Linked DNA regions of Homo sapiens: regions 2 and 3 are each linked to region 1. Evidence: fine-mapped expression QTL. A gene starts in region 1. Each other region holds a variant in brackets. All regions are shown on one strand. Distances are between the middles of the regions.

The links. PIP is the estimated chance that this variant, and not a neighbour inherited with it, causes the effect.
Region 2: its variant is the best candidate, but not a certain one, in a credible set for the expression of CSNK1E in whole blood (INTERVAL, PIP 0.72).
Region 3: its variant is the best candidate, but not a certain one, in a credible set for the expression of CSNK1E in whole blood (INTERVAL, PIP 0.83).

The regions. Positions count from the first base shown.
Region 1 is chr22:38,316,219-38,318,974 of GRCh38, reverse strand. CSNK1E (casein kinase 1 epsilon) reads left to right here and starts at 1,542. Exons shown (of 11, transcript NM_152221.3): 1 at 1,542-1,815. The region is part of intron 5 of TPTEP2-CSNK1E (TPTEP2-CSNK1E readthrough); the gene reads left to right. RefSeq lists an enhancer at 1-102 and a silencer at 1,825-2,214.
Region 2 is chr22:38,356,233-38,358,988 of GRCh38, reverse strand. All of the region lies in intron 4 of TPTEP2-CSNK1E (TPTEP2-CSNK1E readthrough), which reads left to right. It also overlaps the pseudogene TPTEP2. Among named protein-coding and RNA genes, the nearest start is that of CSNK1E, 40 kb to the right of the region's middle. The variant A/G (reference allele first, on the strand shown) is at 1,560.
Region 3 is chr22:38,288,601-38,291,356 of GRCh38, reverse strand. It overlaps TPTEP2-CSNK1E (TPTEP2-CSNK1E readthrough), which reads left to right. Exons shown (of 15, transcript NM_001289912.2): 15 at 1-666. It overlaps CSNK1E (casein kinase 1 epsilon), which reads left to right. Exons shown (of 11, transcript NM_152221.3): 11 at 1-666. Among named protein-coding and RNA genes, the nearest start is that of TMEM184B, 17 kb to the right of the region's middle. RefSeq lists enhancers at 685-1,392, 1,393-2,102. The variant A/T (reference allele first, on the strand shown) is at 1,419.

The DNA.
Region 1 (2,756 bases):
TGTAATTCCAGCTATTCAGGAGGGAGGCTGAGGCTGGAGAATCACTTGAACCCAGGAGGCAGAGGTTGCAGTGAGCCGATATTGAGCCACTGCACTCCAGCCTGAGCCACACAGCGAGACTCTATCTCAAAACCAACAAAAACAAAAAGCAAAAAAAAAAAAAAAAACTTTGGGGATTAATTAACAAAACAACAACAGAAAGCACCGCGCAGGCCAAGTAAAGCCCACCACCTGGCTGGTGACCCCCTGCTCTGGCAAAGGTGTCACTGAAGGCAGGCCCTCCTGGGAGGAGGCTTCTCACTCTCCTGCTCTTGGAAATGGGCTCTAGATAGACCCAGTTTCCTGGTGATCGCTGGGAGAACAGAGCTGTCCTGTTGGGCTTTGTGGTCCTGGGCAAAGCCCTTCCCCTCTCTGGGCCAGTTTCCTGGCCGGCGAAAGGACTTAGTCTGTGGGGCTCCTGCCCGTTTGGACACGTGTGTGACTCAGTCCCTCAGCCTCGAGGAGGGAAGATACGGCTATTATAGAAGTGACTCCTCCCAGGAACTGTGCTTCCGGGATTGGACGCAGGGCCTCAGGCATTTTGCGTGTCCACAGTCACAACTGTGTGAATATAGGTGTGTCATAATTGGAAGCTTTGCATGGCTCAGTGTAAATATCATCACTTTAATGACTTTGTTCTGCAACCTTTCATCGCGGCTCTGCATGCCGGTAGAAGCTTTTATTAATTCTGTGACCTGGGGAGGACAGGGTCCTTCCTCCCATTTGCTGTTTAAGGAAACCCAAGCTCAGAGCTGGGAGGTGGCTTGGCTAAACGTGCACCACTCGGAGCCCAGACTCAAGTGTCGGTGCTTTGGTACTTGTGGCACCCCTCCTTCAACAGGGGAGAATGAGGTTGGGATCTGAGGGGTCCTCTCTGTGCCCATCACAGTTTGAGCTTCAGGGAAAAGAAGAAGAGGTCTTTGCCCTTCGTTTTTCCACGGGAGGAGAATGTATGAGCCCAGGCTACCTTTCTGGGCCTTGTGTCGACATCCCTAGCTGTCTCCTCAAATCTCTTGCCCTGAATCAACCTGGCCTGTGTTCTCTGCGGCACTCGGAACCTGGAGGCGGACTGAGCCTCCAGCAGTCTAACATCTTTTGCAGTGTCGTGAATAGCCGCCTGTTTTCGCAGGGGCCCAGTGCTCTGCCTGGAGAGGAGAGAGATCCTGGCAGGCGGGGAGAGGAGACTTTGGGTCTAGACCCTCCCCTCCCATCCCCTCACCTCCGCTTTTTGTGCGCCCTCCTCTTCCCTCTGTCCCCCCCGCACCCCGTCTTTTCCACCTGTGCCCTGGACTGCATTAGGGTGTCAGTATCTGTGTGCTCCCCCACCCCCACGCGTAAGCCCGCGCGCCTGCACTGAGGCTGGGGAACTGCGTCTCGCAGCTGCGGCCCCCAGCGCGGAGGGCGCGGGCCCTTTAAATCCTCCGGGGCGGCGGCGGCGGGCCGGGGATGACATCAGCGGGCGGGCCCGGGGCTCAATGGGAGCCGGCGGGCGCGCGCGGTGCGAGAGCGCGCGAGCCGGCGGCGGGGGCGGGCGGGCGGGCAGGAGGCCGGGAGGAGGGAGGCGGCGGCGGCGGCGGCGGCGGCGGCGAGAGCCCAGAGCCAGAGCCCGGCCGGGGCCGAGCGGAGCGCGGCGGCGGCGGCGGCGGCGGCGGCTGGGCCGGGAGAGGCTGGCGCGCCGGGCGGCTCCGCGAATCCTCCGGCATCCGCCCCGGCGGGCCGCCCCCGCCCGCGGCAGCCCCCCGAGCAGTGGCCCGGCATCGGCGCCTTCCCGGCGGGGTAAATATCGGGGGGCCGCGGGCCCGCGGAAGGGTGCAAACCTGGGGGGAATCGGGCTCCCTCAGCCTCTTTGTTTTTGCTGGAGAGGGAGGGAAGGGAGGGCAGACACACGCGCGTTCGCGCTGGGGTGTAGGGGGGGCAGCCCGGGCGCCGCCCGCTCGGCCCGGCGAGGACAAAGGCGCGGCTGGGGACGAGGAGGAGGGGGCCTGTTATTTTGCAGGCTCGCGGGGGAGGCCCCCCGGCCGGCCTGCCTCCGCTTCCCCCCGCTGGGCCCTCCGAGGCCCCGGCCGGCCAGGCGGCCACCCCGGCTGTGATTTGGGGACGCTGAGGGAGGGGGCTTGGGGTGCTGGGCGCCGGATACTGTTGATTCGGGCCCGCGTAGCGTTTCATCGGACAATCACCGGCGCCCCCTGCTCTCCCGGCCCCGGCGCCCGGACCTGGGGGTTCGCAAGGCTGCGCCCGCTCGTTGGATGACGGGCGTTTGGGGGTCCTAAGGTGAAGAGGTGTGTGGTCACCAGGCCACTGATTTGTTTTTCTTTGTGGAGAGAAAGAAAGGGGTGGGGGTTATTTGTCGGATCGGATTCTCCCATTTTTGTGTGAGAGATTGATGTCTTGCAAGTCTCTAAGGAACGCAAAACAGTGTCTGGGTGTCGTTAGAGGATTCCCAAGCTCTTGTTAATACCCTAACTCGAAGTGGGGTGAGCCCCCTCCCCAACTTTTCCCTTAGTTTTCTTGCATATTTTCTTCCTGGCATAGCCTCCTTCCTGGAGAAGGATTTGGAGAGAGGAGAAGGGGACACAAGTGTCTCAAGTTGCTTCCAAGCAATGCCTGTGTTTGGGTCTCCTTTGCCTTCGTTTCTATGATGTCCCTTCAATTTTTATTTTAATCGTCCGAGGGACAAGGGCCCCGGCTCAGGGGTAGGCGATGGTGTTCGGGGAGTA
Region 2 (2,756 bases), 40 kb before region 1:
CAATGGATACACGAAAAATAAAAAACAAGAAACTAAATCATATCACCAGAGAAAATTACCTTCACTAATGAAAGACAGGAATGAAAGAAGGAAGAGAAGACCCCAAAACAACCAGAAAACAAATAACAAAATGGCAGGAGTAAGTCCTTACTTATCAATAATAACATTGAGTGTCAGTAGACTAAACTTTTCAATCAAAAGATAGAGTGGATGAATGGATGAAAGAACAAGACCCATCCAGGTGTGGTGGCTCACGCCTGTAATCCCAGCAGTTTGGGAGGCCAAGGCAGGCAGATCATGAGGTCAAGAGCTAGAGACCATCCTGGCAAACATGGTGAAACCCTGTCTCTACTAAAAATACAAAAATTAGCAGGGTGTGGTGGTGCGCACCTGTAGTCCCAGCTACTCAGGAGGCTGAGGCAGGAGAATCACTTGAACCCGGGAGGCAGAGGTTGCAGTGAGCCGAGATGGTGCCACTGCACTCCAGTCTGGTGACAGAGCAAGACTCCAGCTCAAAAATAAATAAATAAATAAATAAATAAAATAAAATAAAAAGACCCATTGCTCTGTTGCCTACAGGAAACACTCTTCTCCCATAAAGACACATGTAGGCTGGAAGTGGTGTCTCACTCCTATAATCCCAGCACTTTGGGAGGCAGAGGCGGGTGGTTTACTGGAGGTCAGGAGTTCAAGACCAGCCTGGCCAATATGGTGAAACCGCGTCTCTACTAAAAATACAAAAAATTCGTCGGTCATGGTGGCGGTCGCCTGTGATCCCAGCTATCACCACTGAAACTCCTTTCAGTTTTCAGAAACAAACTGTAGGTGACCAGAAGCGTTATCCGCTAAGCGCACCACTTTAAGTCCCTGACTTAGAGCCACAAGTGTTCTGTTTACCTATTGTTACTACTCTTTTCACTCTGGCAAACAGATTAATTCACACAAAATTTTATTTGAATGGCTTTTCAATTTATCATAACAATGGTTACTAAAAAGTGAGAGAATATGTACTAAGGGTTGAGTACAAGTTAGTGCTAGTAGAAAATAAGAGCCTTAATAGAGAAAAAACTAGTTCTAATCAAAGACTGGATTTAGTCAATGATGTTTATATTTTTAGCTTACATTTATAGCTTCAGAAACATTTTGTTACTGATATTCCTATCATAATTATTGTTTCAAAAATTCTCTAGTCCCTAACCTTCCTTTTTTCATTAAACAACTGTTTTAAAATTAAACTGTTATCTTGAAGGTTTTTTTTTCTTTTGAGACTGAGTTTTGCTCCTGTAGCCCAGGCTGGAGTGTAATGGCACAATCTCGGCTCACTGCAACCTCCAGCTACCAGGTTCAAGTGATTCTCCTGCCTCAGCCTCCCAAGTATCTGGGATTACAGGCATGAACCACCACGCCCAGCTAATTTTTTGTATTTTTAGTAGAGATGGGGTTTCACTGTGTCGGCCAGGCTGGTCTTGAACTCCTGACCTCAAGTGATCTGCCCGCCTTGGCCTCCCAAAGTGCTGGGATTACAGGCATGAGCCTGGGTCCTCAGCCTTGAAGATCTT[A/G]TAGAAAAAAGCAACTACTGTGTTATAGAATAACAAACTTTAAATAGAAACAAAGACATTTTAATACAATCTTAATTACTCTGTGAACATGTAGATTAACCTTTAAATATAGGCTTTTTTTTTTCCTCAAAACAGGATAAGAGTTATCTTCTCATTTTTAATTTCCAAGTTGAAACTACAGATGACTATGTTTACTGAATCACATTTCAGGATCTTAAATCTTCGGACAATTATGTGTTCTTTTTTTCTTCACATTTTTGGAACTCCCTCAGATTTAACATCAATTAAATAACCTAGCTAAAACCTTGAACTCTTTTCAAAACAGTAAGTGGTAGAATAACAATAATTTCATACTCATAGTTTTAAAAGAATTAAACAACTGGATTTGACAGACATTTTCACAATTTTTTGTTGTCATGCAATTTTGGATACAGCCATTCTGCATGGTTTCACAAAGTTGGCATAGAGAAATATAAGTTTCCTAAGTTGAAACGGAAGATTATAAAAGAGGGAAGGAGAATGAGAGTAAGAGACTGGTTAAAGATGCAAAGGATTTCCACTTCTTCATTGTTATGTAAATGTGTCTGCTTTTTAAAAAGCACAATCACTGAAAAATCTATTTGGATAATGCCTTCACTCTATGCAACTATATCTGACTACAGGCTGAGCACCCTTAATCCAAAAATTCTGAAATGCTCCAAAATGTGAAATTTTTTGAGTGCCAACATGATGCCAAAAGTGGAAAATTCCACACCCGACCTTCTGTGACAGGTTTGCAGTGAAAATGCAGGTATACAACATGAAGATGAGGTCAGGGAGTCATCTAAGACAAAAACCATTGTTAATAAGGCAGATGACTCCATAGGGAACTTTTTTTTTTTTTTTTTTTTTTTGAGACAGAGTGCAGCTCAGTCGCCCAGGCTGGAGTGCAGTGGTATGATCTCAGCTCACTGCAACCTCTGAGTCCCAGGTTCAAGCGATTCTCCTGCCTCAGCCTCCCGAGTAGCTGGGACTACAGGCATGCATCACCACGCCCGGCTAATTTTTGTATTTTTAGTAGAGACGGGGTTTCACCATGTTGGTCAGGATGTTCTCAATCTCTTAACCTAGTGATCCGCCCGCCTCTGCCTCCCAAAGTGCTGGGATGACAGGTGTGAGCCACCGCGCCAGGCCCATAGGAAACATTTTTAAAAGCCG
Region 3 (2,756 bases), 28 kb after region 1:
TGTGTGTGTGTGTGTGTGGATGTATTGACCTGTGTTTCCCAAGACAGCAGGTGCCACGGCCCGCCCCGCCTGCCAGCCCGAATTCCCGTTCTCCTGTGTCTACTAACAAGGACATGGGGGTGGGCGGTGACCTCCGCATCCCTCAGAGCTCAGAGGGTCCTCGCTGCCACCGGTCCCCCCCTAGCCCGTCATCAGCCGGTGGCAGCTCCATCTTCCATTCCTGGTTTTAGGGCAGAATCCATGGAGACTGCTTCCAGAAGGCATCTGGCTCTGAGTTATAAATTACTTCCCTGGTCCTGACAGTCACCTGGGGTCCCCCCTCTCCCTGGTTCCACCTTTCTGAGGAGGAGCCTGGAGTCAGGGCTGGGTTTTGGATTAACCCATCCTTCCTAGTTAACACCTTTTTGTTTTTATTTTATTTTATTTTTGTTTGTTTTCTCCGTGTGTGTGTTTTCCTAATTTATTTACCTCTGTTTCCCCTTTTTCCTTTTTTTTTTTAATTAAAGAGCAAAGCTTTTTATTACTTTGTAATTTAAAAAACTGAAAAAAAAAAAACTGAAGAACTTTGGGGGGAATTTTGTACTTTTTTCCTGTGTAAATATTGGACTTTTTTGAGCTTTATCGTGGTTGTTAATTTGAAGTAATAAAGTAGAAAAGATAAAGTGATGCAGGCAGCCCTTTGTCCACCTCTGTGCCCTTAGGGCCTCTCCCTGCAGACCCGGAAGTGGGTCTTGCTGGGAGCAGCAGGAGTCAGTGAGGAACAAGCCCTCGCCCTGAAGGCAGGTGTGGCTGGGGCCACTTTCAGAACACTTGGGCTGTGGTTGGGATGTCCGGGGGCTTTGAAAACACGAGTGCACACAGGTGCCACGCCACAGGTGCCACGCGGGGGTCTTGTAAAGAGGGCTGGGGTGGGGCTGAGAGCTTCCCCCTGCACACTCCAGGTGTGCTGATGGCCTGGGGCCCCTCTTTGAGAAGCAAGGCCCTAAAAGCTCTTCACACATGATTTTATCCACACAAGTATCCTGAGTTAGGTCCTGTTAATAGCCCTGCCTTCGGACAAGAAACTGGTCCTGCTGTAAAATATCTTGCCCACAGTCACAGCTCTGGTGGCAGAGGCAAGACGAGCCGAGGTCATCTCGCTGTGGGGGTTGTGGGGGTGCTCTGACCCTCTCCACTGCTGACCCTGGGGCTCCATGAAGGAGAGTGCTGGAGCGAGCTCTGATAGTGACTCTGGATGAGGTCCTTCAGTCAAGCCTTGATAAAAGGGCAGCGCTCAGCCTCGCCTGCCTTGGTCTCACCAGCTTGGAAAAGAATCTGTCCATCTGCATTTACCCAACACAGTTTACTTCCTTTCGTCAACCGAAGAGCCATTATTGCCACAGTCTCAACCCAGAGGCAAGACGGAAGCTGTCTGGCTG[A/T]TAGGTCTGCCTGGGAAGCGGATGGAGGGCCCTGGGAGGTTCCCCTCGGGCGTTTTGAAATCCTGGACATAGGTCAAGGCGCCTTCCAGTGCTGGCCGTCAAGACCCAGTGACCCACAGGCTCACGGCCTGGTGGAGGGTTTCCTGCTGTGTGAGGCCCAAGTAAAGGTGGGTCCCCTTTACAGGCATCAGGTATCAGGTGTGTTACCAAAGCCAGGAAATGCCAGTAGGCCCTGGAATGGCAGGTGCTAAGCAGAGCCTGGGCCTTGGGGCTGGGTGGCAGCCAGGAGTCAGTGGTCAATTGGTCAGCCTGCGAAGAGCCATTTTGTTCACCCGCACTTGGTTGAATGAGGTGCTGGGGGAATGCAGCAGAGAGTTCCCCTGCCTCCCTGGACTTTAGGACCTTCTGGGATGGACAACCTGACACCAGACAGCGAGTGGAAGTTACCAACTAGAGGCCCTGAGAGAAAATAATAAGGAGCTGGTCTTTGTCTTTTACAGTGAAAAGTATAGTTTTGTTTTTTTTTTTGTTTTGTTTTGTTTTTGAGACAGGATCTTGCTCTGTCACCCAGGCTGGACTGCAGTGGTGAAGTCATGGCTCACTGCAGCCTCAACTTCCCAGGCTCAAGGGATCCTCCTGCCTCAGCCTCCCTAACAGCTGGGACCACAGGTGCGTGCCACCATGCCTGGCTAACTTTTGTATTTTTTGTAGAGATTAGATCTCACTGTGTTGCCCAGGCTGGTCTTGAACTCCTGGGCTCAAGCAATCCTCCCACCTCAGTCTCCGAAAGTGCTGGATTTACAGGCATGAGCCATTGTGCCCACCCTATTTAATCAATTTTAATAATAAGCTAATGCTTCTCCCCCTCCTCTTTTTTGGTTTATTTTTTGGATATGAAGGTGTTTACATACACGAAAGTCAAGCTGTCTAAAAAGCTATAATCTGAGAATCCCTCCCGCCCCTGCTGCTCTGCCCCATTTCTACCCATCATGCTTCTTCCTGCATTCCTTTCTTAGAGAGCTAATGTTTGGGAGTGGGCAGTGACTGACAGCCTCTAAGGAAGTGACATTAATGCGTCAACCATACAGTTTAAGTACACCAAATAATCACAAGGAAATTTTGCCCCTACCAGAGGGGGCAAACAGGCACCTGGTGAGTCATTTTCATTCATGCCACAAAAAACACTTGCTAACTGGGCTTTTGTGTGGGCACCAGGGTGCCAGCTACTAGGCTGGAGGTGGTGCAGGCGTGGAGGGTTGGGAGCACAGGATTGGCATCCTGGGGGCTTCGGGCACATCTCAGTTTCCTCCTCTGTAATGTGGAGGTGATGATGCCTGT